4 linked regions of the Homo sapiens genome follow. The main gene of each other region encodes a partner of the protein of the gene in region 2 in a complex. Each region holds a gene or a part of one and is shown on either strand. Other genes may lie near its edges. The genes, in order: TAF1, TBP, TAF6 and TAF5.

The links.
Region 1: TBP (region 2) and TAF1 share a complex: the UniProt entries of both Homo sapiens proteins name them as parts of the TFIID-containing RNA polymerase II pre-initiation complex.
Region 3: TBP (region 2) and TAF6 share a complex: the UniProt entries of both Homo sapiens proteins name them as parts of the TFIID basal transcription factor complex.
Region 4: TBP (region 2) and TAF5 share a complex: the UniProt entries of both Homo sapiens proteins name them as parts of the TFIID basal transcription factor complex.

The regions. Positions count from the first base shown.
Region 1 is NC_000023.11:71,376,357-71,383,382, reverse strand, and holds part of TAF1 (transcription initiation factor TFIID subunit 1), read right to left. Parts: intron 6,434-7,026; coding exon 6,192-6,433; intron 5,781-6,191; coding exon 5,562-5,780; intron 5,149-5,561; coding exon 4,930-5,148; intron 4,560-4,929; coding exon 4,352-4,559; intron 1,641-4,351; coding exon 1,464-1,640; intron 848-1,463; coding exon 720-847; intron 623-719; coding exon 515-622; intron 393-514; coding exon 219-392; intron 1-218. UniProt on the Homo sapiens protein: The TFIID basal transcription factor complex plays a major role in the initiation of RNA polymerase II (Pol II)-dependent transcription.
Region 2 is NC_000006.12:170,550,553-170,557,394, forward strand, and holds the start of TBP (TATA-box-binding protein), read left to right. Parts: upstream 1-3,816; 5' UTR 3,817-3,911; intron 3,912-6,329; 5' UTR 6,330-6,477; coding exon 6,478-6,531; intron 6,532-6,842. Other genes in the region: PSMB1 (proteasome subunit beta type-1), read right to left, coding at 2,578-2,690. UniProt on the Homo sapiens protein: The TFIID basal transcription factor complex plays a major role in the initiation of RNA polymerase II (Pol II)-dependent transcription.
Region 3 is NC_000007.14:100,109,340-100,116,365, reverse strand, and holds part of TAF6 (transcription initiation factor TFIID subunit 6), read left to right. Parts: intron 1-67; exon of another isoform or gene 68-520; intron 521-2,097; coding exon of another isoform or gene 2,098-2,156; coding exon 2,157-2,312; intron 2,313-2,411; coding exon 2,412-2,498; intron 2,499-2,596; coding exon 2,597-2,750; intron 2,751-2,960; coding exon 2,961-3,017; intron 3,018-3,448; coding exon 3,449-3,568; intron 3,569-4,112; coding exon 4,113-4,258; intron 4,259-4,366; coding exon 4,367-4,444; intron 4,445-4,536; coding exon 4,537-4,638; intron 4,639-5,044; coding exon 5,045-5,227; intron 5,228-6,091; coding exon 6,092-6,166; intron 6,167-6,292; coding exon 6,293-6,418; intron 6,419-7,026. UniProt on the Homo sapiens protein: The TFIID basal transcription factor complex plays a major role in the initiation of RNA polymerase II (Pol II)-dependent transcription.
Region 4 is NC_000010.11:103,377,970-103,384,995, forward strand, and holds part of TAF5 (transcription initiation factor TFIID subunit 5), read left to right. Parts: intron 1-265; coding exon 266-581; intron 582-1,638; coding exon 1,639-1,802; intron 1,803-1,914; coding exon 1,915-2,050; intron 2,051-3,751; coding exon 3,752-3,872; intron 3,873-5,268; coding exon 5,269-5,398; intron 5,399-7,026. UniProt on the Homo sapiens protein: The TFIID basal transcription factor complex plays a major role in the initiation of RNA polymerase II (Pol II)-dependent transcription.

The sequences.
Region 1 (7,026 bases), on a different chromosome or scaffold from region 2:
ACAGTTTTTGAAAGATGCAGTCATTCTGACACCTCACCTTTAAATATTTTCACATGCATCACCTAACAATAAAGACATTCTCCTAAATAACCAAAATAACATTCTATCACATCTGAGAAAATAACCAATTCCCTAATACAATCTAATACCTGGTACATTCCCTTAATTTATACCCCAATATCCTTTATAGCTGTTTTCTAACCAGAATTCAATTATACCTTGGCCTTTTTTTTGATGTGCTTTAGCAAAGGTTGGACTGAGTGGGGACCTGGCTGAGAAAGTGCACCAAATGAGTACTTTTTCAGAGGTGGGCGATGGAACTGCCGGAGTTTGATGGGCCCCATGTGGGTGGGAAAGAAGGGCTGCCGTAATTCCACAGCAGGAATTGAATGCTAAAACAGGAAATAGAAGGGTTAAAATTAGCTAATTCCATCCTAAGCAAGATTTTCCCATATCCTCCGTCAGAACAAAGCCATGGGGTTCTCCTCTATCACAGAAAAGACACTATTTGTACCTGGATAATATTCCCTCCAAAGGTGCCTCGAAGACCCTGTTGCTTGGGATAATAATACTCATCATTGGAGAGATTCCATGGATCTTTCACTTCTGGCTGAGACATGTTCTAATGATAGATAATCAAACAAATCTCGGTCAGACTATCCTTCTCTATTACCTTTCTTTGTTCTTCTAAACACCAAGCCCCTTTTTTCTTCACACACCTGCTGTGGTTCCTCCTTGATGACTCCTGTTTTCCCTAAGAGAATTCGACTCTTCTTCAGAGATGATTCCTTCTTACTCTCCTTGGAGGGGGAGTTAGAGGTGGCCTCTTCCTTCTCATCAGGAATTTCTGAGAATAAAACAAAAATCACTTGAGTTGCTCTCCCTGAAGATTCACCTTTCCTACAGACAAGTATCCAGTTTTCTTCTTTAAGGTGACGGATGTTCCAGTGAAGGTCTTAACTAGACCTTTCATCCCACCCCCCCCCAGGTAACTTCTAGTCCACGATTTACTAACTGAACTACACCTGTATCTTTTCATCCCATCCCAAATCACTTCTAGTACATGATTCACTAAGTGAACTACACGCTTGACATCTCAAAGGTACTACTTTCCGACAGTCCTACATGAGTTTTCCCTAGGGAATACACAAATAATAAAAACTAACTGCCACAATTTTGCTCTCTCAAACTGCTACCTAGAAGTTTCGAGTCCATGATTCACTAACGGAACAAACTATGCTCTTGACATCTCAAAGTTGCAACTTTCCAACATTCCTACGTGAGTGTTCCCTAAGCATATACACAAATAATATAAACTAACAGCCAAAACTTCGCTCTCTCAAGCCGCTACCTACAGGTTTCTAGTCCTAATCATCTCCAACCCTTCTGATTTCCTCCTGCCCGTTGACATTAACAGCAAGTTTTCAAAGGAGAAGAAACACTGGCCTCTGCCAGTAATATACCCAAAATGAGGTTCTCATCATTGGGATCAAGTGTCAAAACAGGAGGTTCCAACAGCCGGGGCATGGCCTGAGCATCCCAAATGATATTGTCCTCCCAGCGTCCATATACCAGATCCTCATTGTCAATGGGAAAAATGGAGTACCAAGGTTTGTCATCATCAAGAGTGGCTGCAAAACCTAGTCAAAGTGCAAGGAGGAAATAGTAACAGAGAAAACATTTATGCCCCTTTCAATCAAGATTCTGGCAAAGATAAAAAGAGTTACTCATGTTAGTAGAGCGAGTTAGTGGAGTTATTCATGTGTCCACTGAAAAGGAACCTACACAGTGTATTTCTCACTTTAAAATAATGTTGCAGGCTCAGCACGGTGGCTCACACCTGTAATCACAGCATTTTGGGAGGCCGAGGCAGGTGGATCACTTCAGGTCAGGAGTTCAAGACCAACCTGACCAACATTGAGAAGCCCCATCTTTACAAAAAATACAAAAATTAGCTGGGTGTGGTGGCACATGCCTGTAATCCCAGCTACTCAGGAGGCTGAGGCAGGAGAATCACCTGAGCCCAGGAGGCAGAGATTGCAGTGAGCTGAGATCGTGCCATTGCACTCCAACCTGGGCAACAAGAGTGAAATTCTGTCTCAAAAAATAAATAAATAAAAATAATGTTGCAGTCAAAAATGTCCACTGCAATACTGTTTATAATAGTTGAAATTTAAATAGCCTAAATGTTTAAGAAGGAATTGGTTAAATTATGACAATAAATGATATGGTAAAGTATGCTAACAATAAATGGTAATAAATTGTATTAACAAATGCAACATGTTATCGGTAAATTATGAAACATTCGTAATAGTAATATATAACCCATAAAGTGGGCAGAATGGAAGGGAAAAAACCTATTTCTTAGGTTTTAAAAATCAGACATTTTTGTATCCGGGTGTGGTGGCTCACGCCTGTAATCCCAGCATTTTGGGAGACCAAGGCAGGCAGATCACTTGAGGTCAGGAGTTCAAGACCAGCCTGGCCAACCTGGTGAAACCCCGTCTCTACTAAAAATACAAAAATTAGCTGGGCACAGCGGTGCACGCCTATAATCCCAGCTACTCGGGAGGCTGAAGCACAAGAATCACTTCAACCTGGGAGGCAGATGTTGCAGTGAGCCAAGATCGCGCCAACACATTCCACCCTGGGCGACAGAGACTCTTGTCTCAAAAAAGAAAAAATTTTGTTTTTCCTCCAAAATATAAAAGTAATCCAGCTTTCTATGTTTATATAGTCTGCTTTTTTTCATTTACACTAATAGGATATCATATATGTTGTTTCATATCTTCTTTATTTCCATTTAAAATGAGTTTCTCAAGCCAGACGTGGTGGCATGCCCCTGAAGTCTTGGCTACTCGGGAGGCTGAGGCAGGAGGATCACCTGAGCCCAGGAGTCCAGCCTGACCAACAATAGCAAGACTCTACCTCTACAAAAAATAATAATTTAATTAAAATAAAATGAACGAGTTTCCCATGTCATTAAACATTTTTATAAAGAACTCTAAATGACACAAAAATATTTATGTGGCTGGGTGGGGTGGCTCTTGCTTGTAATCTCAGCACTTTGGGAGACCGAGGCAGGAAGATCACTTGAGTCTAGGAGTTTGAAACCAGTCTGGGCAACAAAGTGAGGCCCTGTCTCAACAATGAAAAATAAAAAATGAAAGAGAGAAAAATATTTAGTAAGTGAAAAGCACAGTATGCAAAACTGTACATACGGAAATGAGCTCAACTACATACACACACAGAACACTGAAAATACACCAAAACTTAACAGTTGATAATCTCCAGATAGATTACCAGTGACTTTAACACTATACTGTATTTTCAAAGTTTTTTACATTAATCATGGCATACCTTAAAAAAAAAAACCTATTTAAGGAGAAAAATAGGAAACTAGAATTCTAAATACAAAGGGACTTGGGAACAAAAATATACTATAAAGTACTGTTATAGTTCAGAAAGATCTTTAACTTCAGGCCAGGCGTGGTGGCTCATGCCTGTAATCCCAGCACTTTGGGAGGCTGAGGCAGGTAGATCACCTAAGGTCGGGAGTTCGAGACCAGCCTGACCAACATGGAGAAACCCCATCGCTACTAAAAATACAAAATTAGATGGGCATGGTGGCGCATGCCTGTAATCCCAGCTACCCGGGAGGCTGAGGCAGGAGAATCGCCTGAGCCCAGGAGGGAGAGATTGCAGTGAGCTGAGATTGCGCCACTACACTCCGGCCCAGGCAACAGAGCAAGCAAGACTCCGTCTCAAAAAAAAAAAAAAAAAAAAGATCTTTATCACATGTTTTTAAGAAACCTGAGTCTGGCCTAGCTTCTTAACAGGGCAAAAAATTACATGGACTATCTTCCTCCAGGTTGAGCATAAAAATAAAATAAAAATTACAGGGACTAGAATTAGGCCTCAGATCCTAAAAATTTCACTATCTCTTGGCAGCTCAGAACATCACAGCCAGCCGGGCGTGGTGGCTCACACCTGTAATCCCAGCACTTTGGGAGGCTGAGGCGGGTGATCACCTGAGGTCGGGAGTTCGAGACCTGCCTGACCAACATGGAGAAACCCCATCTCTACTAAAAATACAAAAATTAGTCAGACATCGTGGTGCACGCCTGTAATCCTAGCCACTCCAGAGGCTGAGGCAGAAGAACCGCTTGAACTGGGGAGGCGGAGGTTGCAGTGAGCCGAGACTGCACCATTGCACTCCATCCTGGGCAACAAGAGCGAAACTCTGTCTCACCGAAAAAAAAAAAAAAAAAAAAAAATCACAGCTGAGCCCACTTATGGTGACTAAGATTAAGGGCAGTATCTGCTAGACACAGCTGGCACAGAAGCACACCTTGCTGAACATTGTAAGCCATCGCATTCCTAGTCATGCTAGAAGGAAGCCAGCCTGCCAGGCTTGCACGCTGAGGTTTTGTCCCTTTGTGTTTGACATCCTCCCCATCCCAGATGATATCATCCTCCCAATGCAGCTGTGTCACCATCAGGAAGTTTTCATCAGCCAGAAGATCAGTGCCATTGTTTTCCTCAAGTTTCCTAAATTCCTGTGTAAGTAGGGAAGAAAAAACACATCCTTGATTGGTCACTGGTCAAGGTTTCCACTCCAAATTCCACATTAAAGATACATCAGACACATTGTAAGTGGTCCTTTACTTGAAACAACCACCTGATAACGGAGGAATATTTGCCTCTTCCCACTCCTAGTCTGGCACAGCATTCATTTCACAAACAGAATCCTTAGAATAGGACCTAGCTACCAGGGTGATACACCATACCAAATAAAAGGCTGAGACACCTCAATCTCCCACCAAAGAAACCCTACCACCCAGTATCTCCCCAATTAAAGAGTAAAGTTAGTAAAAGTAATAGGACCTGAGTACATTGATTCCTTTCTTACATACCAGTGTTGCTCACCTCTATCATTCTAGATTTTATCACAGGTTCATGTTCTGTCTTTCTCAGTTTGAAGCCATAGTCAAACCCACTGCCATCTTCAGGGACACCCAGCATATCATACCACAGTCGGGCAGGCCCATAACGCCACTCAGCCACTCTTGGTTTGGTATCTGTCACTTTATCTATATCTCCAGTTGATTGGGAAAATTTGGACTCCACAGGAGCCATCATCGTGATCTGTAACAGAAGAAAGAAGTAGAGCAGGGAGAATTTCCTGATCCCAGATGTCCTAAGGCTATAGAGAGTTAACAGTCAGGAGGGGAACTTAGAGAAACTGAGGATGATTTACCTGGAGTTAGAATGTAAACAATGGAGATGTATCATAGCACATTCCACCTATCAATCAAACCTTCTTATTCAGCAGCATATCACCATCTACCCCTCTCATCCCCGCCTACCCCACCAAACATTTTTCTTTTACAATAGGGAAGGGGCAGCCACTGAGATTGAACCCATGATTACTCATTGAAAATTAGCACAGATTCTATCTGCTATGGTATTATTTACAATTTAGACATAAATTAGGGAGAACTCATTGAATTCATTTGTTCCTCTCATAGGCCTTAATCTCAGGTCTCTATTTTGCCTACTTCATCATCAGAGAGACACTGCTCTGGAGGTGGTGGTGGAGCGTAGTCGTAGTTCCACAAAGACTTCTGGCTGACTTCTGATTCTACTGAGCACTCCACCTCCTGGATCTGCTCTTCCTGTATCAGCTCACGGTGCTTCTTCTTCCTCTTTCTCCGAGCACTCCGCCAAACAGATGGGACATTCTTCCCTGGTCCAAAAAGACGTAGAAAACGTAACACCTAGAACACAGAATACATTACTATGACACAGACTCAAAGTCAGATGGGAAAACAGCAGCATCTGGGCCTGAAAACTCCCTTGAGAGATCTCTTCAAATGTGGGGGAGAAACAAAGGAGTGTCGCATTCAGACTTGTAACGTCTAAGAAAGTAAAGAAGCGTTCCTTAATAATTTGGGCTAGTTCTTTTAAGATAACAGAGAAATTTCCAATGAGAACAGCATAAATCACATTTACTATCAATACATACAACTTTAAAAAAAAGACCTAATACAGTGTGAAGAGCTCTTATGTAGCCAATAATATGTCACTGAGTAAGGAAACCCCATTCCATACTCAGCATCTTAACAACAAAACTCATTATTTGGAAGAGGTCAGTGGTTTGCAATCTGAGCATTCTCCACAGAATGTACCTTTCCAGGTCGAAATTCTGGAAAAAGTTCTGTGACACTTGGCAACAGCTTGGTGGCATCATGCTGCATAATCCCAGCCAATGGAAGGGTCAGCTTTCCATCTTCAGATTCTGCCTGTGTTGCTTCCTGAGGTCCCATCTCAGATTCTGAGTCAGAGGAACTACTGAAGTCCACTTTCTCTGAGGCCAAAGAGGAAGGGGCAATGATGGAGGGCAAGATGATGCCTTCTCCATTTTCAGACACTGCAACAAGGAAGAGAAACCCCTTTGGCATGTAACTGTGAACATATTTCCTCGAATTCCGCAAACACCCACTTTAGGCTATACACATGGCTCAATGCCAGGAGATATAGGCCCAAGCACCCAAATCATAATACTAGTATGCAACCCAGAAAACTCATTCTAACTCGTTATCTCCCATCGTCCCCCAACTCACCACGTACCTGGTACCCTAGGGTTGTGATGAGAAAACAAACACTATTACTACATTTACTACTTTCCGATTTTTTGTTGTTTTTTTTTTTTTGAGACAGAGTCTTGCTCTGTCGCACAGGCTGGAGTGCAGTGGTGAGATCTTAGCTCACTGAAACCTCTCTCTCTCGGGTTCAAGTGATTCTCCTGCCTCAACCTCCTGAGTAGCTGGGATTACAGTCATGCGCCACGACAGCTGGCTAAATTTTTGCATTTTTAGTAGAGACGGGGTTTCACCATCTTGGCCAGTCTGGTCTTGAACTCCTGACCTCAAATCATCTGCCTCCACCTCCCAAAGTGCTCGGATTACAGGTGTGAGCCACCACACCTGGCCCTACTTTCTGATAAGTAACCAATATTGTAAC
Region 2 (6,842 bases):
TCTTTAAAAAAGGAATGCAAGAGAGAGAAAAGTTCCATTTACAAAGTGGGGTTTTAGGAAGACTGCTCTGACAATAACATAGTATGTGAAATGGGACAGAAACACTGTTCTAATACTACTAATGCAATAGTAAGGTAGCAGGGTGAACAGTAAATCCAAAATCATCACAAACACACAAAATAGACAAATTTTTATATCTACGCAAATGTTTTAGGAACTGGGAAAACCAATTATGACATCCAAGATTTAGAACTTAGATGAACAGAATGATGGCATAATTATAAGTATTTTAAAGGAGAGGAGGCCGGGCACGGTGGCTCACACCTGTAATCCCAACACTTTGGGAGGCTGAGGGGGGGGGGGGGGGTCAATTGCCTGAGATCAGGAGTTCGAGACCAGCCTGGCCAACATGGTGAAACCCATCTCTACTAAAAATACAAAAATTAGCCAGGCGTGGTGGCAGGCACCTGTAATCCCAGCTACTCGGGAGGCTGAGGCAGAAATGCGTGAACCCAGGAGTTGGAGGTTGCAGTGAGCTGAGATCGCACCGCTGCACTCCGGCCTGGGTGACAGAGTGAGACTCTGTCTCAAAAAATAAGAAGAAAGGAGAAGAGGAGATGAAGGGGAATAATTAGCTTGCTTTTTGTTTTGCTAGCTGTCTTGAGTTGCCCTGAGAGCAGAAAAACCAGTTAAAAATGTTTTACTGAAGAAGCCGAATCGAGGGACTCATGAGAGGCAGAACTGGAAAACCAGATTTGGGAGTAATCCTCCCAGCAATGAGACATGAAAGAGTGCTGAGCGATAAACAAGGCGGCTAATGACTTAACTACATTTAAAGACAGAGTAGGAAAAGAGAATGAGGCCTCATTTTGCGGAAGCGAAGGCTGCCTGAGAGCCAGCTGCAGTAAACACTAAAGAAAAAGAACAATGACTGAGAAAAAGTAATCAGAAAGATCTAAGTAATTTTTAGGGCAGTAATGGCTTAAACTGGATTACAAGGGATTAAAAAGTGAGTAACGAGTAGGGCATACTGAACACTGAAAATTCTTATTTATAGAGAATAGCCTTACGAAACGGGTCCAATAACCCTCCCTACAATATACAACTTAATTAGTCATCACAGGAAGTGTTAAGGTGTATAATGGAAAAGCATCCATAAACTCAGTGGTGAAATAGCTATGAATTAAGTCCTGGCTCAACTTCACACCAGCTCTCTGACCCTGACAGTTTAACGTCTAATATAACCCTAGGATGCTAATATCATCTAACATTCACTTTTCATGAGGATTAAATAAGATGACAGCTTGCAATTTACAAAATGCATCTCTCTTGATTCTCACCAAAAACTATGAAGCTACTAAGGAAGATAAGGAAATTTAGGTTCAAGAAGTTCAGAAGTACCCAAAGTGTCCTTTAGTGGCAGAACCAAGGCTAAAATCAGACTTTCGTTATCTTTCTAACACACTCCCAAAATGTGCATTTATATTTCAAATTTATGAGGAACCAATTAACATTTTTGCTTTGTTTTTAAAATTTATTTTTGTAGAGATGGGGTCTTGCTATGCTGCGCAGGCTGGTCTTCAACTCCTGGCCTCAAGCGATGATCCTCCTGCCTTGGCTTCCCAAAGTCCTGGGATTACAGGTGCGAGCCACACTGCCCAGCCAATATTTTCTGTTTTAAGAACCATCGGTTCGTTCAAATTGCGTGTGTATATTTTAATGTACAAGGCTTGATTGGTAACTATAACCACTGTTTCAATTTACAGCTCTTCCCTGTCAAGAGTCTTAAACAGAGCATCTTTCTATAACCCTAAATCTCTGGCGTGCCACCACGGAAAATTATACTACTCAAGATAAAGCTGGTAATTAAAATAAAAACCAAAACTTGAACATAACATACAAGAACACACATACTAAAAGGTCCATCTTCTGAGTATTTTGTTTTCCTGAACTTAAGCTAAACGTTAAAAAAAAAAAGCACTTATCTATGAAACTAAGTTTGCTCAGCCAATCCCACCTTCTATTTGAAATAAAACAAAATGATTAAACTGCTACAATTAGAAATAACAGAAATCAGGCGGCTACAATTAGACATCTCGGCTACCAACCCAGCTATGCATCTAACAACACAGACCAAACAACCCTAACTTTTAAGTTTCAGACGCTAACCCTCTACCCTCGCCGGCTGGCATAAGAAACGTGTACATGAGGTCCAGTTTTAATGGTCTTCCACAGAGCAGAGGCTATGTTTCAATTTCTACTTTACTGTCTTACAGCAGCAAGGAGCACGGAGTGGCGGTCCACATAAAAACTCAAATGACATGACTGTAATGGGAAACCCTAAAAACCAAGGCTGTATCGCAATCACCAAGTAAACTTGAGCAAAGCGAGCCTGAAGAGGGAAACACAGGGCATGAGAGGACGGCAGGGAGACCGGCCTTGTGCGGACCCCCTCAGCTCAGGGTTCTGAGGCCTGCAGGAGCCCGGGGCAGCGCCATCACGGCGGTGACTCCTAAATAGGCTTCAGCAGATGGGGGAAGGGCGAAAGTGAAAGCCGCAGCTCTCTGGGGTTTTTACCCTCCGTTGAAAACGTAGGGCGAAAATCGCAGCTGCAAAGGGCCCGCGGCTCTGTGCGGTTCCATCCCCAAGTCTCTGCCAGGAGCCGAATACATGGCTGTAGAGGACAACATCGCACGGCTGCGCCTGCGGATCCGACACTTGCTGTCTCACGGCGAGATGGCTGCCTTGACCGGACGTTACGCCACTTCCGGCTTCTCCTGAAGTTCGCTCCCGGCCTCTCTATCTCACGCTAGTCGTTGCTCCTGGAGGGCTGCACGGCGGCTTGTCCCTTTGGTAGTTGAATCCCGCCCATTCCAAAAAGCGCTGACAGGGATGTAAAGGGTTTTTTTTGTTTGTTTTTTGTTTTTTTCCCCCTCGAAGAAAACATTGGAATTCACCCCAATGGACAAAAATTTAAGTCTGACCATACAAAAAAATTGTCAGAACTATGGCGCAACGGCAACTCGAATAACGGTGGGAACGTTAATTGTCCTGGCTAATAAAAAATGTATATAACATTTCCTATCCTTAAAGAGCTCACAACCTCACTGATAATAAAAAGTACAAAGAAAACAAGCAGTATAACATATGATTACGCCACAATGAACTACAGAAGGGAAAATCAAGGCGTGCTGAAGTCCCACTAAGAAACAACTGCGGAAAGAGCCATGTGACAACAGTGCATGAACTGGGAGTGGCAGAACTGAATATAAATGCATGTGTAAACACAAGCTGTTTGTTTTGCTTAGTGTTCCTTGTCATTCTACACGCTTGAAGATCAGCTAGCGTTCTTGCTGACAGGTAAGGAGGACGCGCTTACTGAGTGCCAAGCACTGCTCAGGCACTGATTCTGTCAATCTCTGTCAATCTCCCGACAGCCCAAGGGTAAGCACTGTTATCATTATTCAATTTTACAGAAAAAAAATGCGGGGGAGAGGTCAGGTAACTTGTCGAAGGTAACGCCGCTAGTTGCTTTAAACAACAACAACAACAACAACAAAACACACTCACACATATACACACACACGCCATTTAAAAATCGATCTTTCCTACGTCCAGCAAGGGCCAATTAGAGATGGCTGTGGCACGGCGGCCCCGCCCCGGAACTCCTCAAGAGCTTCGCCCCTCCTTACCTATGGAAACACAGGAAGTGACCTATGCTCACACTTCTCATGGCCTCGGCCCTAGTGGGAGCAACTCGCTGAAGCCGAGGGCAGAACTGGCGGAAGTGACATTATCAACGCGCGCCAGGGGTTCAGTGAGGTCGGGCAGGTTCGCTGTGGCGGGCGCCTGGGCCGCCGGCTGTTTAACTTCGCTTCCGCTGGCCCATAGTGATCTTTGCAGTGACCCAGGTAACAGATTGTACTCTTTTCTGACGGTTCGGGCGAAGGCCACCACTGCACTGAGGCCTGGGGGCAATGGTGGGGAAGAGACTAGGAATTGGCGCGCGTGCAGGCCCCTCGGGGGACGTTCCTCCCTTTCGTGCTGCCGCCGTTCCGGCCTGTAACGGCCACTCGGCCGCCACTCCCGCCTGGTGCCCTACTCTGCTGTGTTTCGCAGGCAGCTTCCCATCGTACGATTGTGGGGCTCAGGGTACTACTGGCTGGCTGGGCGGCGGCAGGCGGGACAGGACAGTCCCTTGCATCGAAGACCCTAAGTTTACCCTGCCCTGTCCTGCCATCCGCTTCTTCTCCATGTTAGAAGCAGATTCACCCAGATCTGTGCCCGCCTGTTTTGCTGCCAACATTGAGACTTAAATATTTTGTCAGAAGCCTGAGACAGCGGGCACGGTAGCGCTTAAGATATAATACACACCACTTTATTTGCAGGGTCTCCCGTCTCTCGGTTCAGGCCATCATGGTTTTCCAAATCTCTAGGTAGACTTTTCTGTGAAAAGACTGTGCTTCATTTAGTTATACAGACACTAGAAGGCTATGCAGAATTAATTTGATTGCCTCCAAAAAATATCGGATTTGATGTTTCAATTTCCAGGAGATGAAGATACCCAGCAAACAACTCTTTTCTGAGGATAAATTAGTGCAGTAATCACTGTGCGGTTTCTTCTGTAGACTTACTTGCAAAAAGTGGCCTGAAGCCACCGAAGGTCCTGGATAAATCTCTAATCATACTTATAATGGCTTTAAATCCTGCCGTCATTATCTCTTGCCTCAACCTTAGATTCCTGAAACGAAACTTCCGTCCTCCAGTTTTACTCCTCTCAAATTCATCTAGTCTTGCCAAATTAGATCTGTTCATACTGCACTTCCGAAATTCCATAACTGTTATTATTGCCTATGCAATAACATTGAAAACTCCTGATAGTATGAGCCCACCAATATGTGCTGTCTCATCTGCTGCAGTGACCTTCTATACAGTCATACTAAGCTTGTTGCCTGCATACTGCATGCTTTTTCAATCTGTCTCTTTCTGCTTGATTTCTCTTTTGTCTGAAGCCCTGATGTGTAAATTCCTACTCACCTTGTGAGACCCAAGTTAGATGGTCCCTGCTTTGTGAAAACACTGCGCTCTCTTCACAGTGATTGGCTGTTAGTCTATATTGTCTTCTCTTCCAGGGGTGTATATGGGCTCATTCATGATCACATACTGTATTCCAGGCATAGTGCTAGATGCAGAGATCACAAAGACATGTAGGCTGGTTTCTGCATTCAAGGAACTTAGCTTAGACCATACCTGCTGTTATAATACTATGTTTTACAGTAGTTATTTGCATACCCTTCATATTGAACACTTTGATGCCAAGGACTATATCCTCCTATCTTTATATCCTCATCTGCAGGACTTCTGTTATTGTTATTATAGGATAACTGTCAAAAAAAAAGTATATTTTAAAAAATATCTCTGATATATTTATTTCCAGAAGCAGAGCTTGCTTTCTTTTTTGGTCTGTTTTTCAGTGATGAGTATGTAGGATAGATAGTCTTTGGGGGCCTTTGCCCTTTCAAAGTGATCGTCAGAGTCTTTCATACATTCAGCAAATATCTGAGTGTCTGTTCTGTACCAGCACATGCTTGAAGTGCATATGCCTGAAGGATCTTTGGACATATAATTTGTAACTTTGAGACCTCTAAGTTCTATGTGAGAATATGTTGTTATAAACTCATTTCAGATGTGTAGTGAGTAAAGCGATGATGATTTAAGAAAAGTCAGATAACAGGCACAGTTTGCATTAATGTGTTCTAAAGAGGTAAGGTTATTACATTTATAAAAATTCAGGGCTTTATCTTTGTGCGGCTTTTTTTTTTTTAACAGTTTCATTACAGTAGGAGCTTGATAAATGATCACTCTGAAGTATATTGGATTGAATTTGATATTTACTTAATTTTTTGCCCAAGACATTGTAGAGGATGTAAAATTGGAATATTTAAAGATCTAAACTTTGCCTAACAGTGCTGTGTATACAGTGCTTAGTGAATATTCTGCTCTGATATTACATTTTGCTTAGGAATTATTTTTCTCTAGGTGTTTTTCCTCAAAAGTTTTTAATGCTGGTTATGACAGCTCGATTTTGAGCATTTTCCGATTATTTAAACATGTAACAAAATGATTTTTGTTTTGTTGGCGATTTTACATGCAATCGCCGGAAACATGGAAGGAATAAAACTTTAGGATTATAAGGTAAAAACAAATGTATTCCAAAATAGCTTCATTGGTTTTCATGTTTGTGTTTTGTATAGCCATAGAACTGGCTTATAGGACTGTACAGGTTACCTGGATCCTTAAATTAAACTTTAGACTTTTTTCCAAAGCAGCATCACTGTTTCTTGGCGTGTGAAGATAACCCAAGGAATTGAGGAAGTTGCTGAGAAGAGTGTGCTGGAGATGCTCTAGGAAAAAATTGAATAGTGAGACGAGTTCCAGCGCAAGGGTTTCTGGTTTGCCAAGAAGAAAGTGAACATCATGGATCAGAACAACAGCCTGCCACCTTACGCTCAGGGCTTGGCCTCCCCTCAGGTAATATAGCAGGAGGGAGAGAATAGGGAGGGCGGAAATCTGAACTGCAAGAGATGGTATCAAAAGGCAAGGAAGGGCATTTAATGATCTGTTTTTGAAAATGGTTTAATATGTTTTTTAAGCCTTATTTTGTTGAGAAGTTCTATTAGGCTTTGAATAGGCACAATGGTGTTTATTTGGGAAGTCTGGAAGCTAAGTTATATATTTATGAAACACCTAATCTTTTGATAAACACTTATGAGAATGTTCCAAATGACTATATAGGGTCTTTGATTTTGAAAATCACCCTCACCAAATTATTTTCTAGTTTT
Region 3 (7,026 bases), on a different chromosome or scaffold from region 2:
TGCCTGGCCTGAGATGGGGTTTTGCTATGTTGCCCAGGGTGGTCAGGAATTCCTAAGCCCAAGCAGTCTTCCCACCTCACCCTCCCAAAGTGCACAGATTACAGGCATGAGCTGAGCCACTGCACCTGCCCATTATAAGGATTTCAGGTTTTACTTTATGGCAAGTGGAGAGCCATTATGAGGGTTTGAGCAAAGAAATGACAATCTGCTTTACAGTTTGACAGAAGCATTTTGGCTGCAACGTTAGGAATAGATGTAGAGAAAGGCAAGGGTAGACTCCGGTTGACATTGTTAGGAGGTTTTTGGAGTTACCCAGTGGATAGATGATGGTGACCTGGGCCAAGCAGTGGGAGCAGAGGAGTCAGGTTGGACTACCTGGTGGATTGATTGATTTTTGAGACAGAGTCTCGCTCTGTCGCCAGGCTGGAGTCCAGTGGCACGATCTTGGCTCACTGCAACCTCCACTTCCCAGGTTCAAGTGATTCTCTTGCCTCAGCCTCCCGAGTAGCTGGGACTACAGGTGCGTGCCACCACGCCAAGCTAGTTTTTGTATTTTTAGTAGAGATGGGATTTCACCATGTTGGCCAGGATGGTCTCCATCTCTTGACCTGGTGATCCGTCCGCCTCGGCCTCCCAAAGTGCTGGGATTACAGGTGTGAGCCAACGCGCCCGACCGGATTTATTTTTTTACCTTTTTTTTTTTTTTGAGACAGAGTCCATCTGTCACTGAGGCTGGAGTGCAATGGCGCAATCTCAACTCACTGCAAACTCTACTGCCGAGGCTCAAGTGATTCTCCTGCCTCAGCCTCCCAAGTAGCTGGGATTACAGGCACGCGCCACCATGCCCAGCTAATTTTTGTATTTTTAGTAGAGAAAGGGTTTTACCATGTTGCTCAGGCTGGTCTCGAACTCCTGACCTGAAGTGATCCACCCACCTTGGCCTCCCAAATTGCTGGAATTACAGACGTGAGCCACCGCACCTGGCCTACCTGGTGGATTTGATGTGAAGGCTCAGATAAAGAACAAGTGTCTGGATGGATGGCATTGCTATGAAGATAAGGAAAGCTGAGCCTGGGCCAGACACTTCGGCTCACGCCTTTAATTCCAACACTTTGAGAGGCCAACGCTGGAGGATTGCTTGAGCCCAAAACTTCAAAGTGGTGGGATTGAAGCCCTGAGGTGTAACAGAAAAAGATAAAAATCTGGGCTGGGCCTGGTGGCTCAGGCCTGTAATTCCAACACTTTGGGAGGCCGAAGCAGGAGGACTGCGTGAGCCCAGCAGTTCAAGACCAGCCTGGACAACATAGTGAGACTCTGTCTCTGCCCCTGCCCCTGCAAAAAATTGGCTGTGTGTAGTGGTACACACCTATAGTCCCAGCTACTTGGGAGGCTGAGGTGTGAGGATTGCTTGAGCCTAGGAGCTCCTGGGCTCTATCAGTTTTCCCACCTCTGCCTCCTGAGTAGCTAGAACAACAGCCCTGTGCCTGCATACCCAGCTAATTTTTGTATTTTTTGTACAGATGGGGTCTCACTGTGTTGTCCAGGCTGGTCGTGAACTGCTGGGCTCAAGCGATCCTCCTACCTTGGGCTCCCAGAGTGTTGGAATTACAGGCATGAGCCACTAGGCCCAGTCCAGATTTTTTTTTTTTTTTTCCTGAGACGGAGTCACCCTGGCTGGAGTGCAGTGGCGTGATCTCGGCTCACTGCAACCTCTGCCCTCTGGTTTCAAGTGATTCTCGTGCCTTAGTCTCCCTAGTAGCTGGGATTACAGGTGTGCACTACCACGCCCTGCTAATTTTTGTATTTTTAGTAGAGATGGGGTTTCTCCATGTTGGCCAGGCTGGTCTCGAATTCCTGACCTCAAGTGATCCGCCCGCCTCGTCCTCCCAAAGTGCTGGTGGGATTACAGGCGTGAGCCACTGAACCTGGCCCCAGCCCAGATTTGTATCTTTCTCTGTTACACCTCAGGGCTGACTCACGTGGGGATGGACATAAGACACTCGGAGTTCCTCCCCTGTCTCCACTGTCCTCCCTTTGTTGGCCCTCTCCCTGTGTCTCACGTTTCTTTTTCTTCTGCCTGCCCCGTTCCTCTGCCAGGGTCTCCGTCTCTCCACCGGGGGCTTCATCCTTCCAGGGAGGAGAAGAGGGACTCCAGAATGGCTGAGGAGAAGAAGCTGAAGCTTAGCAACACTGTGCTGCCCTCGGAGTCCATGAAGGTGGTGGCTGAATCCATGGGCATCGCCCAGATTCAGGAGGAGACCTGCCAGCTGCTAACGGATGAGGTCAGCTACCGCATCAAAGAGATCGCACAGGTGACCCGGCCCTTCTGTCCAGCTCTACATTGGGTCCATGTCACCCAGGGCCCCGTCCTTAGGATTTTGGGCTGATGTCTGTTCTGTCACCGACCCCAGGATGCCTTGAAGTTCATGCACATGGGGAAGCGGCAGAAGCTCACCACCAGTGACATTGACTACGCCTTGAAGCTAAAGAATGTCGAGGTGATTTGGGGAGACAGGCGGGGGGGGGGTGAGACGCCATCCTTCAGCCAGGTCTCCTCCGGCTCCCTTCTTACCCATGCCCCTCTCTCCTGCCACAGCCACTCTATGGCTTCCACGCCCAGGAGTTCATTCCTTTCCGCTTCGCCTCTGGTGGGGGCCGGGAGCTTTACTTCTATGAGGAGAAGGAGGTTGATCTGAGCGACATCATCAATACCCCTCTGCCCCGGGTGCCCCTGGACGTCTGCCTCAAAGGTTGGGGGAGGGGAGAGCAGGGTGGCAGGGAGGAGGGAAAGGAGGACAGATGTGTGTAGGTGTGAGGAGCCTCACAATAGAAGAAAAGCTCAGTGTGAGATCCCTGGTGAGTTGCAAGGGGAGCAGGAGTGGAAACACGCTTCCATAGCATGGGGCAACTCCCCAATGTCCATGCGTGGCAATTCACCTTGACACCTGCCTTCCTTGCAGCTCATTGGCTGAGCATCGAGGGCTGCCAGCCAGCTATCCCCGAGAACCCGCCCCCAGGTAACCTCCATGCCCCACCCTCTGGGTCTCTGGGTCCCTTTCCCCTTCCTTCCACCTTTTTTTTTTGAGACAGAGTCTCACTCTGTTGCCTGTGCTGGAGTGCAGGAGTGCTGGAGTGCAGTGGCTCAATCTTGGCTCACTGCAAACCTGTGCCTCCTGGGTTCACGCGATTCTTGTGTCTCAGCCTCCTGAGTAGCTGGGACTACAAGCACACACCACCACGCCCGGCTAATTTTTTGTAATTTTAGTAGACACGAGGTTTCACCATGTTGGCCAGGCTGGTCTCGAACTTCTGACCTGAGGTGATCCACCCGCCTTGGCCTCCCAAAGTGCTGGGATTACAGGCATGAGCCACCGCATCCGGCCTCCTCCCACCTTTTACTTTTCTACTATGCTCATCACCCCTCCCGCTGTGCCTGCTTTCCCACCAGCTCCCAAAGAGCAACAGAAGGCTGAAGCCACAGAACCCCTGAAGTCAGCCAAGCCAGGCCAGGAGGAAGACGGACCCCTGAAGGGCAAAGGTCAAGGGGCCACCACAGCCGACGGCAAAGGTCAGTCCTCCTAGGCTAGGCCTCTCTGGACTCTTGCCCAAAGCCACATGGCCGTTTGTTTTGTTTCCTTTTTTTTTGTTTTTGAGACAGAGTCTCACTCTGTCACCCAGGCTGGAGTGTAGTGGTACGATCTCAGCTCACTGCAACCTCCACCTCCAGGGTTCAAGCGATTCTCCTGCCTCAGCCTCCTGAGTAGCTGGGCTTACAGGTGCCCACCACCACGCCCGGCTAATTTTTGTAATTTTTTTTAGTAGAGACAGGGTTTTGCTATGTTGGCCAGGCTGGTTTCAAACTCAGCCTCATGTGATCCGCCCGCCTTGGCCTCCCAAAGTGCTGGGATTACAGGTGTGAGCCACCATGCCAGGCCTCCATGTGGCCATTGGTGAAGTGGCTGAGGTCAGGGCCAGAGCCCCAGAAAGGATGGGGGAGCCTAAGAAGAAGCCAGGTCTCCTGGGTCTCAGGGGAAGTGGAGGGTTAAGGTTCTTCTGTTACTGAGGTTTCTTCTGGAGCTTTCTTTGTCAGACCCACCTTTCCAATCACACAGGGAAAGAGAAGAAGGCGCCGCCCTTGCTGGAGGGGGCCCCCTTGCGACTGAAGCCCCGGAGCATCCACGAGTTGTCTGTGGAGCAGCAGCTCTACTACAAGGAGATCACCGAGGCCTGCGTGGGCTCCTGCGAGGCCAAGAGGGCGGTGAGGGCCCCACCAGCTTGCCCTGGCCCTGAGACGCCTCCTCCTGGGGGCCCTATGAATTGCTCCCCACATCCCACCCCCACCTGACTGGCTTCCCTCCTCCCACAGGAAGCCCTGCAAAGCATTGCCACGGACCCTGGACTGTATCAGATGCTGCCACGGTTCAGTACCTTTATCTCGGAGGGGGTGAGAGCATGAGGTTCCACAGTGCAGGGACGGCAGTGGAAGCTCCTGTGAGGGTCTCCCTGCCCCATGCCCAGCACTTCTCCCTCCCACAGGTCCGTGTGAACGTGGTTCAGAACAACCTGGCCCTACTCATCTACCTGATGCGTATGGTGAAAGCGCTGATGGACAACCCCACGCTCTATCTAGAAAAATACGTGAGTGATCCTGCCCATCCTCCCTTCCAGGGACTAGGGACCCTGCTGCCACCAACAGGAAGTCAGTGGTCAGCAGTGGCTCACACCTGAAATCCCAGCAACTTTGGGAGGCCGAAGTGGGAGGATTGCTTGAGCTCAGGAGTTTGAGGACAGCCTGAGGACAGTAGTGAGACTGCTATCTCTACAAAAAAAATTAACCAAAACAAAATTAGCCAGGCATGGTGGTGCACACCTGTGGCCCCAGCTACCTGGGAGGCTGAGATGGGAGAATTGCTTGAGCCCGGGAGATTGATGCTGCAGTTAGCCATGATTGTGTCCCTGCACACCAGCCTGGGTGACAGAGCAAGACTTTATCTCAAGCAGACAAACAAAACCAGAATCAGCTGTCCCGCCCTTTCTCCCTTAGGTCCATGAGCTGATTCCAGCTGTGATGACCTGCATCGTGAGCAGACAGTTGTGCCTGCGACCAGATGTGGACAATCACTGGGCACTCCGAGACTTTGCTGCCCGCCTGGTGGCCCAGATCTGCAAGCATTTTAGCACAACCACTAACAACATCCAGTCCCGGATCACCAAGACCTTCACCAAGGTGAGCCAGGAAAACTTGAGCGTCATTTGCTTCATCACTGGCCACCTCTGGTTGGGGGAAGTCACACTGGAAACAAGGGGGCAGAGGGAAGAGGGACTGGAACTTGTGGGGGTCTAAGGGTCTTGAGGCTTGTCTGTAATACCTTTTTTTTTTTTTTTTGAGATGGAGTCTCGCTCTTGCCCAGGCTGGAGTGCAGTGGTGCAATCTCTGCTGACCGCACCCTCTGCCTCCTGGGTTCAAGCGATTCTTCTCCCTCAGACTCTTGAGTACTTGGGATTACAGGCACCTGCCACCACAACTGGCTAATTTTTTTGTTTTTGTTTTTTTGAGATGGAGTTTCGCTCTTCTTGCCCAGGCTGGAGTGCAATGGTGCAATCTTGGCTTACCACAACCTCCGCCTCCTGGGTTCCAATGATTCTCCTGCCTCAGCCTCCCGAGTAGCTGGGATTACAGGCATGTGCCGCCACACCCAGCTAATTTTGTGTTTTTAGTAGAGACGGGGTTTCTCCATGTTGGTCAGGCTGCTCTAGAACTCCCGACCTCAGGTGATCTGCCTGCCTTGGCCTCCCAAAGTGCTGGGATTACGGGTATGAGCCACTGCACCTGGCCACAACTGGCTAATTTTTGTATTTTTAGTAGAGACAGAGTTTCACCATGTTGACTAGGGTGGTCTGGAACTCCTGACCTCAGGTGATCTGCCTGCCTCGGCCTCCCAAAGTGCTGGGATTACAGGTGTGAGCCACCACGTCTGGCCTCATTGTAATGTCTTAATGATTTACAAGGAAAGTGTCTATGAAAGACTTAGGTCCCTGTCAATCATCCTTTCAGACCCCTTCATCTTAGTTTATTTCCTTCCCCTTACAGAGCTGGGTGGACGAGAAGACGCCCTGGACGACTCGTTATGGCTCCATCGCAGGCTTGGCTGAGCTGGGACACGATGTTAGGCCTCTGGGAGGAAGAAATGGGGGAGGGGACACAGTCATGAGGTTATAGAGGGCACTGTACCCCCATCTGGGAGACCCTGGTGACCCTCCGGCTTTTGCTTGTCCTTTTCCCTTCTAACAGGTTATCAAGACTCTGATTCTGCCCCGGCTGCAGCAGGAAGGGGAGCGGATCCGCAGTGTGCTGGACGGCCCTGTGCTGAGCAACATTGACCGGATTGGAGCAGACCATGTGCAGAGCCTCCTGCTGGTGACTGAAGCCCCTGTCCCCACACCTGCCCACTGAGACACAGGCAGTGTTTAGCAAGCATATGGCATATTTTATTCACTTACTCCCATCTTTGCCTCATGTTTTCAGAGGACATTGCAGAGTCTGATACTATTTTACAGATGGAAAGACTGAGATTAGACTGAGTAAGAAATAAGGGGGCTGGGCATGATGGCTTCTGCCTGTAATCCCAGCACTCTGGGAGCCTAGGAGTATGAGGCCAGCCTGGACAACGTAGCGAGATCCCACCTGCAAAAAAAAAAACCAAAAAGCCGGGAGTGGTGACGTGTCTGTGGTCCCAGCTACTAGGGAGGCCGAGGTGGGAGGATTGCTTGAACCCAGGAGTTCAAGGCTACAGAGAGCTATGATCGTGCCACTGCACTCCAGCCTGGGTTACAGAGGGAGACCACCGCCCCCCAAAAAAGAAGGGTTTAACACGCTCAGCCTGTGGCATTTGGACCATCCTTCCCCAATGCTCCTGTTACTCTGTGGTCTTCTCTGTACAAGGCAAATGCGCTCTTGATTAACCATCCTGCCACAGTATTTAGCAAGTTCATTCACACATTAGTGCCCATGTTTTCTTTTTCTTT
Region 4 (7,026 bases), on a different chromosome or scaffold from region 2:
TTTTTCACTTAGGATATTTAAGTTCTTTTCTTAAAATGTTTGTGATACATTTCATTAGAGAATTACATTTGTTCATTTTTAGAATAAATTCAGAAACTGAATTATAGTCATTTTGAAATGAGTTACTTCTTATCCTACAGCTTAGTTCAGGATTATTTAGACTACTACATTGAAAATATTCTGGGATGGTTTATAAGTATATGGGGGAAAGGCAGATCCCTTAATGATTACATTGAAAAATGACTTTTTAAAATCACTGAAACAGGTTCCATGGAGATCAGGAATGTTATTACCAGGATGACCTACGAGTATTATCTAGTCTTACCAAAAAGGAACACATGAAAGGGAATGAGACCATGTTGGATTTTCGAACAAGTAAATTTGTTCTGCGTATTTCCCGTGACTCGTACCAACTCTTGAAGAGGCATCTTCAGGAGAAACAGAACAATCAGATATGGAACATAGTTCAGGAGCACCTCTACATTGACATCTTTGATGGGATGCCGCGTAGTAAGCAACAGATAGATGCGATGGTGGGAAGTTTGGCAGGAGAGGCTAAACGAGAGGCAAACAAATCAAAGGTATGGGAATGAACCTAAGAACTCTATAATGCAGATTATGAAAAATTGTAGCATTTCCATCTACATAAGTTACACATTTTTCTTATAGCTAGCTTGGAAACAATTTTTTTCGTTTGTTTGTTTTGAGACGGAGTTTTGCTCTTGTCACCCAAGCTGGAGTGCAGTGGCGTGATCTCAGCTCACTGCAACCTCCACCTCCTGGGTTCAAGTGATTCTCCTGCCTCAGCTTCCCGAGTAGCTGGGATTAGAGGCACACGCCACCAACCTGGCTAATTTTTGTATTTACTTTAGTAGAGACAGGGTTTCACCATGTTGGCCAGGCTGGTCTCGAACTCCTGACCTCAGATGATCCACCCGACTCCGCCTCCCAAAGTGCTGGCATAACAGGCGTGAGCTACTGCGCCTGGCCGCTTGGAAACAATTTTATACTGTATATAAAATTTTGTGTTCTAAGGGTGATGTTTATATGTGACAATTTGGGTATGGTTGCATTTTATGGAACCCTGAATGCAGTGGCTGAAACAAAGAATTTTTCTCCCATAAAATGAATTTCAGAGGAAGGCCTTCCAGGGCTGGCATGAAGGCTCCACAGTGCCATCAAGGTCCCTGGCTCCTTCTGGTTTCTGATCCACCATCTTCAGAATGTGGCTTTCCTCTTTGTGCTCACAAATGGCTGTTGCAGTTTCAGCATTGCAGCTCCGTTCCAAGAAGGAAGAAGGGGGAGGACAAAAGGCATATCTCTGCTGAAGCTTTCCCTTTTTAATCAGGAAAACAATATTTTTTTGATACAACCATACCCAGTATACTTATATGGACATTCCTAGCTGAAAGGGAGCCTGGGAACAGAAATGATTTAACTGAGCACATTGCTACTCCAATAAAATCAGGGTTCTGTTAGTAAGGAAAAAGGGGAGAATGGCTATTGGGTAGACAAATACAGAACCCTGCTTCAGAGTGTAAATTACTATTTTGTAATTGTGATTTATCCTATCAAGATGTAAAATGGGTATATTAATGAATAAATAATTTTAAAAATGTTGGCTCTTTTGACTTGTAGGTATTTTTTGGTTTATTAAAAGAACCAGAAATTGAGGTACCTTTGGATGACGAGGATGAAGAGGGAGAAAATGAAGAAGGAAAACCTAAAAAGAAGAAGCCTAAAAAAGATAGTATTGGATCCAAAAGCAAAAAACAAGATCCCAATGCTCCACCTCAGAACAGGTGAGGAAAAAACTTCAGGAACTTGTGTGTGGAGGTATAAGACAACATGTTATATAGAGTTCAAGTTTGTTAATAGTCAAAAGGTAATTTTGACTCTCTTTTTCTTTCACAGAATCCCTCTTCCTGAGTTGAAAGATTCAGATAAGTTGGATAAGATAATGAATATGAAAGAAACCACCAAACGAGTGCGCCTTGGGCCGGACTGCTTACCCTCCATTTGTTTCTATACATTTCTCAATGCTTACCAGGTTGGTAAAAAAATTGGGCGATTTCTGCCTGGAGAGTCATGTAGGATGATGATTTACCATTAAGAGAGAAACAAATGTATTAGCTAAAATGGAGTTTCGTTATTTAAACTCCTTTTTTTTTTTTTTCTGAGACAGAGTCTCGCTCTGTCGCCCAGCTGGAGTGCAGTGGCGCGATCTCAGCTCACTGCAATGTCCGCCTCCCAGGTTCATGCCATTCTTCTGCCTCAGCTTCCCCAGCAGCTGGGACTACAGGCGCATACCGCCATGCCCGGCTAATTTTTTGTATTTTTAGTAGAGATGGGGTTTCACCGTGTTAGCCAGGATGGTCTCGATCTCCTGACCTTGTGATCCGCCTGCCTCAGCCTCCCAAAGTGCTGGGATTACAGGCATGAGCCACCGCATGTGGCCCCTAAACTCTTATACAATTTAAAGACAGCATTCAGGAAGAGAGAATTGGATACTGCACAGAATAGATAGAAGTCAATGTTTAATGGCATTTGTTTCACCGATCAGAATTCTGCTAGCCTTTGAGGAGGAGCAAATTGTAGTTCATTTCTGTTGAACTTGGTTTAAGTACTTACGTAAACTTATTTATCAATTTTTTTTTTTTTTTGAGACAGAGTTTTGTGCTGTCACCTAGGGTGGAGTGCAGAGGTGAGATCTCAGCTCACTGCAACCTCTGCCTCCCGGGTTCAAACGATTCTTGTGCCTCAGCCTCGGCCTCCTGAATAGCTGGGATTACAGGCACCCTCCACCATGCCTGGCTAATTTTTGTATTTTTAGTAGAGACAGGATTTTGCCGTGTTGCCCAGGCTGGTCTTGAACTCCTGACCTCAAGTGATCTGGCCGCCTCAGCCTCCCAAAGTGCTGGGATTACAGGCGTGAGCCACCGTGCCCAGCCATATAAACCTTATTTTATTTTATTATTTTAATTTAATTTCATTTTTTGAGATGGAGTCTTGCTCTGACACCTAGGCTGGAGTGCGGTGGTGCAATTTTGGCTCACTGCAACCTCCGCCTCCCAGTTCAAGTGATTCTCCTGCCTCAGCCTCCTGAGTAGCTGGGATTATAGGCATGAGCCACCACGCCCAGCTAATTTTTGTATTTTCAGTAGAGAAGGGGTTTCACCAGGTTGACCAGGCTGGACTTGAATTCCTGAGCTCAGGCAATCCACCCGCCTCAGCCTCCTAAAGTGCTGTGATAACAGGCATGAACCCCCGCGCCCGGCCAAACTTAGTATTTTATTTTATTATTATTTTTTTTTTGAGATGGAGTCTCACTCTGTCGCCCAGGCTGGAGTGCAGTGGCACGATTTTGGCTCACTGCAACCTCTGCCTCCTGGGTTCAAGTGATTCTCTTGCGTCAGCCTCACAAGTAGATGGGATTACAGGTGCCCACCACCCTGCTTGGCTAATTTTGGTATTTTTAGTAGAGATGGGGTTTCACCATGTTGGCCAGGCTGGTCTTGAACTCCTAACCTCAGGTGATCCACCTGTCTCAGCCTCCCAAATTGTTGGGATTACAGGCATGAGCCAGTGCGCTTGGCCAATATTTTAAATCAAGAATTTTAAAAGTCTTTATATATTCCTTAAAATAGAGGATTGAGGAGATATTTAGTATAGTGTGAAAATGATTAACATTTGCTTCCTATCTCTAAATATCCTAAAATAGTATTGTTTAGTCTAACCCTTTTATTGGCAGGGTCTCACTGCAGTGGATGTCACTGATGATTCTAGTCTGATTGCTGGAGGTTTTGCAGATTCAACTGTCAGAGTGTGGTCGGTAACACCCAAAAAGCTTCGTAGTGTCAAACAAGCATCAGGTAACTGAGATGACCTTTTGGAATGTGAACTTGCCATTAGTCTATACCAATCTTGATTCCATGGAAAATACACAGGAGATTGTGTTCTTTACAGAAATTCACTTGATTTTACTTTAACTCAAGATTCTAACATTCCCAACAGTGAAAAAAGCTTTGGAGTGACTGGGGTGCTAGACTGGTTTAATTTCTTTAGGTCTCAGTTTTCTCATCTGTAGAATGAGTGAGTATTAAGCTAAAAAACTTAAAGTTAAAAATCTAACATTTTATGATTGCTTGTAAATCTTAAAAAATCTTTAAATAAGGGATGGTACTTCCTGTTTTAGTCATAAAAATGGCTAAAAAGAACAAATAAGGTCAGGATTTTATTTGAAAGTTTTTTACTTTTTGTTTTTTTGAGACAGAGTCTCGCCCTGTCACCCAGGCTAGAGTGCAATGGCGCAGTCTTGGCTCACTACAGCCTCTACCTCCCAGGTTCAAGGGATTTTCTTGTGTCAGCTCCCCAGCTCCCCAGTAGCTGGGATTACAGGTGCCCACCACCATGCCCAGGTAATTTTTGTATTTTTAGTAGAGATAGGGTTTCGCCATGTTGGCCAGGCTGGTCTCGAACTCCTGACCTCAAGTGATCCGCCTGTCTGGCCTCCCAAAGTGCTGGAATTATAGGTGGCTCACTGCAACCTCCACCTCCCTGGTTCAAGCGATTTTCCTGCCTCCACACCCGGCCTGAAATAAAGTTTTTTACTAACTATATTATTTAAATAAAACAATATATTTTAAATTATTTCAATATTTCCATAGGTTTTTTTTTTTTAATTTTAAATTTTTTTTAGATGGGGTCTCACTCTGTTGCCCAGGCTAGAATGCAGTGGTGTGATCACGGCTCACTGCAGCCTCTAATCCCTGGGCTGAAGTGATCCTCCCACTTCAGCCTCCTGAGTAGCTGAGACTACAGGTGTGTGCAACCACACTGGCTAATTTTTTATTTTTTGTAGAGACAGGGTTTCTCCATGTTGTCCAGGCTGGTCTCGAACTCCTCTGGGCTCAAGCAATCTGCCCGCCTTGGCCTACCAAAATTCTGAGACTACAGGTGTGAGCCACCATGCCTGGCCCATAGTTTTCATTTTGTGAAACACTGTGGCATAGTGGGCAAAACTGAGTTTCAGTTCTGGTTCCCACACTGAGTAGCTGTGTGCACTCTAGCAAATTATCTGTTCTGAACGTCATTTTCTTCTCTTACACGCTGAGATGATACTGCCTAATTTAGAGGGATTAGCAAAGTGCGGTTGGTATATAGGAGGAAATTTTCAAATGTTAATTCCTCTCCTGCACTGTGATATGATTACTTTAAAAGTTTTGATGAATGTACTTATAAAATATCAATATTTCTGGACCATTTTAGATCTTAGTCTTATAGACAAAGAATCAGATGATGTCTTAGAAAGAATCATGGATGAGAAAACAGCAAGTGAGTTGAAGATTTTGTATGGTCACAGTGGGCCTGTCTACGGAGCCAGCTTCAGTCCGGATAGGTAAAATACAAACAATAAAAATTAAATACTGCTATGTTATATTGAAATTATATAAAAGTTAACTACTGGAAACATTATGCAAATGCTGGGAAAATTCTGATAAAAATCTCATGGTTGTCTGACGTTCATCATCTTTTAGAATCTTGCCATTTGCTAATTCATCTTTGAATCCTGGTGTTTGTACATGGTAGCAATTTAATGTATACTCACTTTTTTTTTTTTTTTTTTGAGACAGAGTTTCGCTCTTGTTGCCCAGGTTGGAGTGCAATGGCGTGATCTTGGCTTACCGCAACCTCCGCCTCCTGGGTTCAAGCGATTCTCCTGGCTCAGCCTCCTGAGTAGCTGGGATTACAGGCATGCGCCACCACACCTGGCTAATTTTATTTTTTTATTAGAGATGGGGTTTCTCCATGTTGGTCAGGCTGGTCTTGAACTCTCAACCTCAGGTGATCTGCCCACCTCAGCCTCCCAAAGTGCTGGGATTACAGGCGTGAGCCACTGTGCCTGGCCTGTATACTCAAATTTATAGAATCAAAATGCACAGTTTCAGGGCTTACTGGTTTTAAAAATTAGCTTTAGTATTTCCCTTTTTTTTTTTTAATTATTTTTATTTGTTACCCAATGGTAAATAACCAACCAAAGCTTTAGTTTTATAGAACTCCATTAGGGGTTGAATTGCTTCATTGGGTCCCTGCATTGTGTCTTCTGGCTGCTTCATCAAATTTAAGACAAATTCCTGACATTAATGGCATATTAGCTAGTAATTGAGGATTAATCTTTCTATAATCAAAAGTACTAAGAGTAAATGAAAAAGGAAATTCAAAATTGGTTTGCTTCCCTTTAGGTGTATGATTACAATGTCATCCTATGTGTATAGGTATTTGCCTATTTTTCATGATCTCTAACACTGTAAAAATGGGTGGAGGGTGTTTTGTATTCATAATACCATCAGTATATTACTTGGATAGATAATAGCTTTCAGGCCGGGCACAGTGGCTCACGCCTATAATCCCAGCACTTTGGGAGTCCAAGACAGGCGCATCACCTGAGATCAGGAGTTTGAGACCAGCCTGGCCAACATGGGAAATCCTGTCTCCACTAAAAAGTACAAAAATTAGCAGGGTGTGGTGGCGCCCACCTGTAATCCTGGCTACTTGGGAGGCCGAGGCAGGAAAGTCACTTGAACATGGGAGGCAGAGGTTGCAATGAGCCGAGATTGCACCACTGCACTCCAGCCTGGGTGATAAGAGCAAAACTCCATCTCAAAAAAAGAAGAAAAGAAAAAAAGATAATAGCTTTCCATCCATCAAGGTTTCATCATTACGAAACTTTGAGAATTAGGTTTTTTGTTGCTTGATAAGGTTTTGCCAGATGATACATTTTTGAGGGAAACGTCTGATTTCAGTGAAAATTGTAATAACCTTCTGACTATCAATCTTTTGTGTTTATGCTTGAAAAAGGTAGAGAATTATTAGCATGTCTGTAGTTTTTTTTTCTTTTTCTTCAAAAGACATTTCCTTTTTAATTCTTACATAGCTTACACAGCATGGGAAAATAGCATCTTTATTTTAGGGTCAAAAATTGTTGAGTTTTAAGTGACATATCACATTTCTTAAACTTTCTCAATT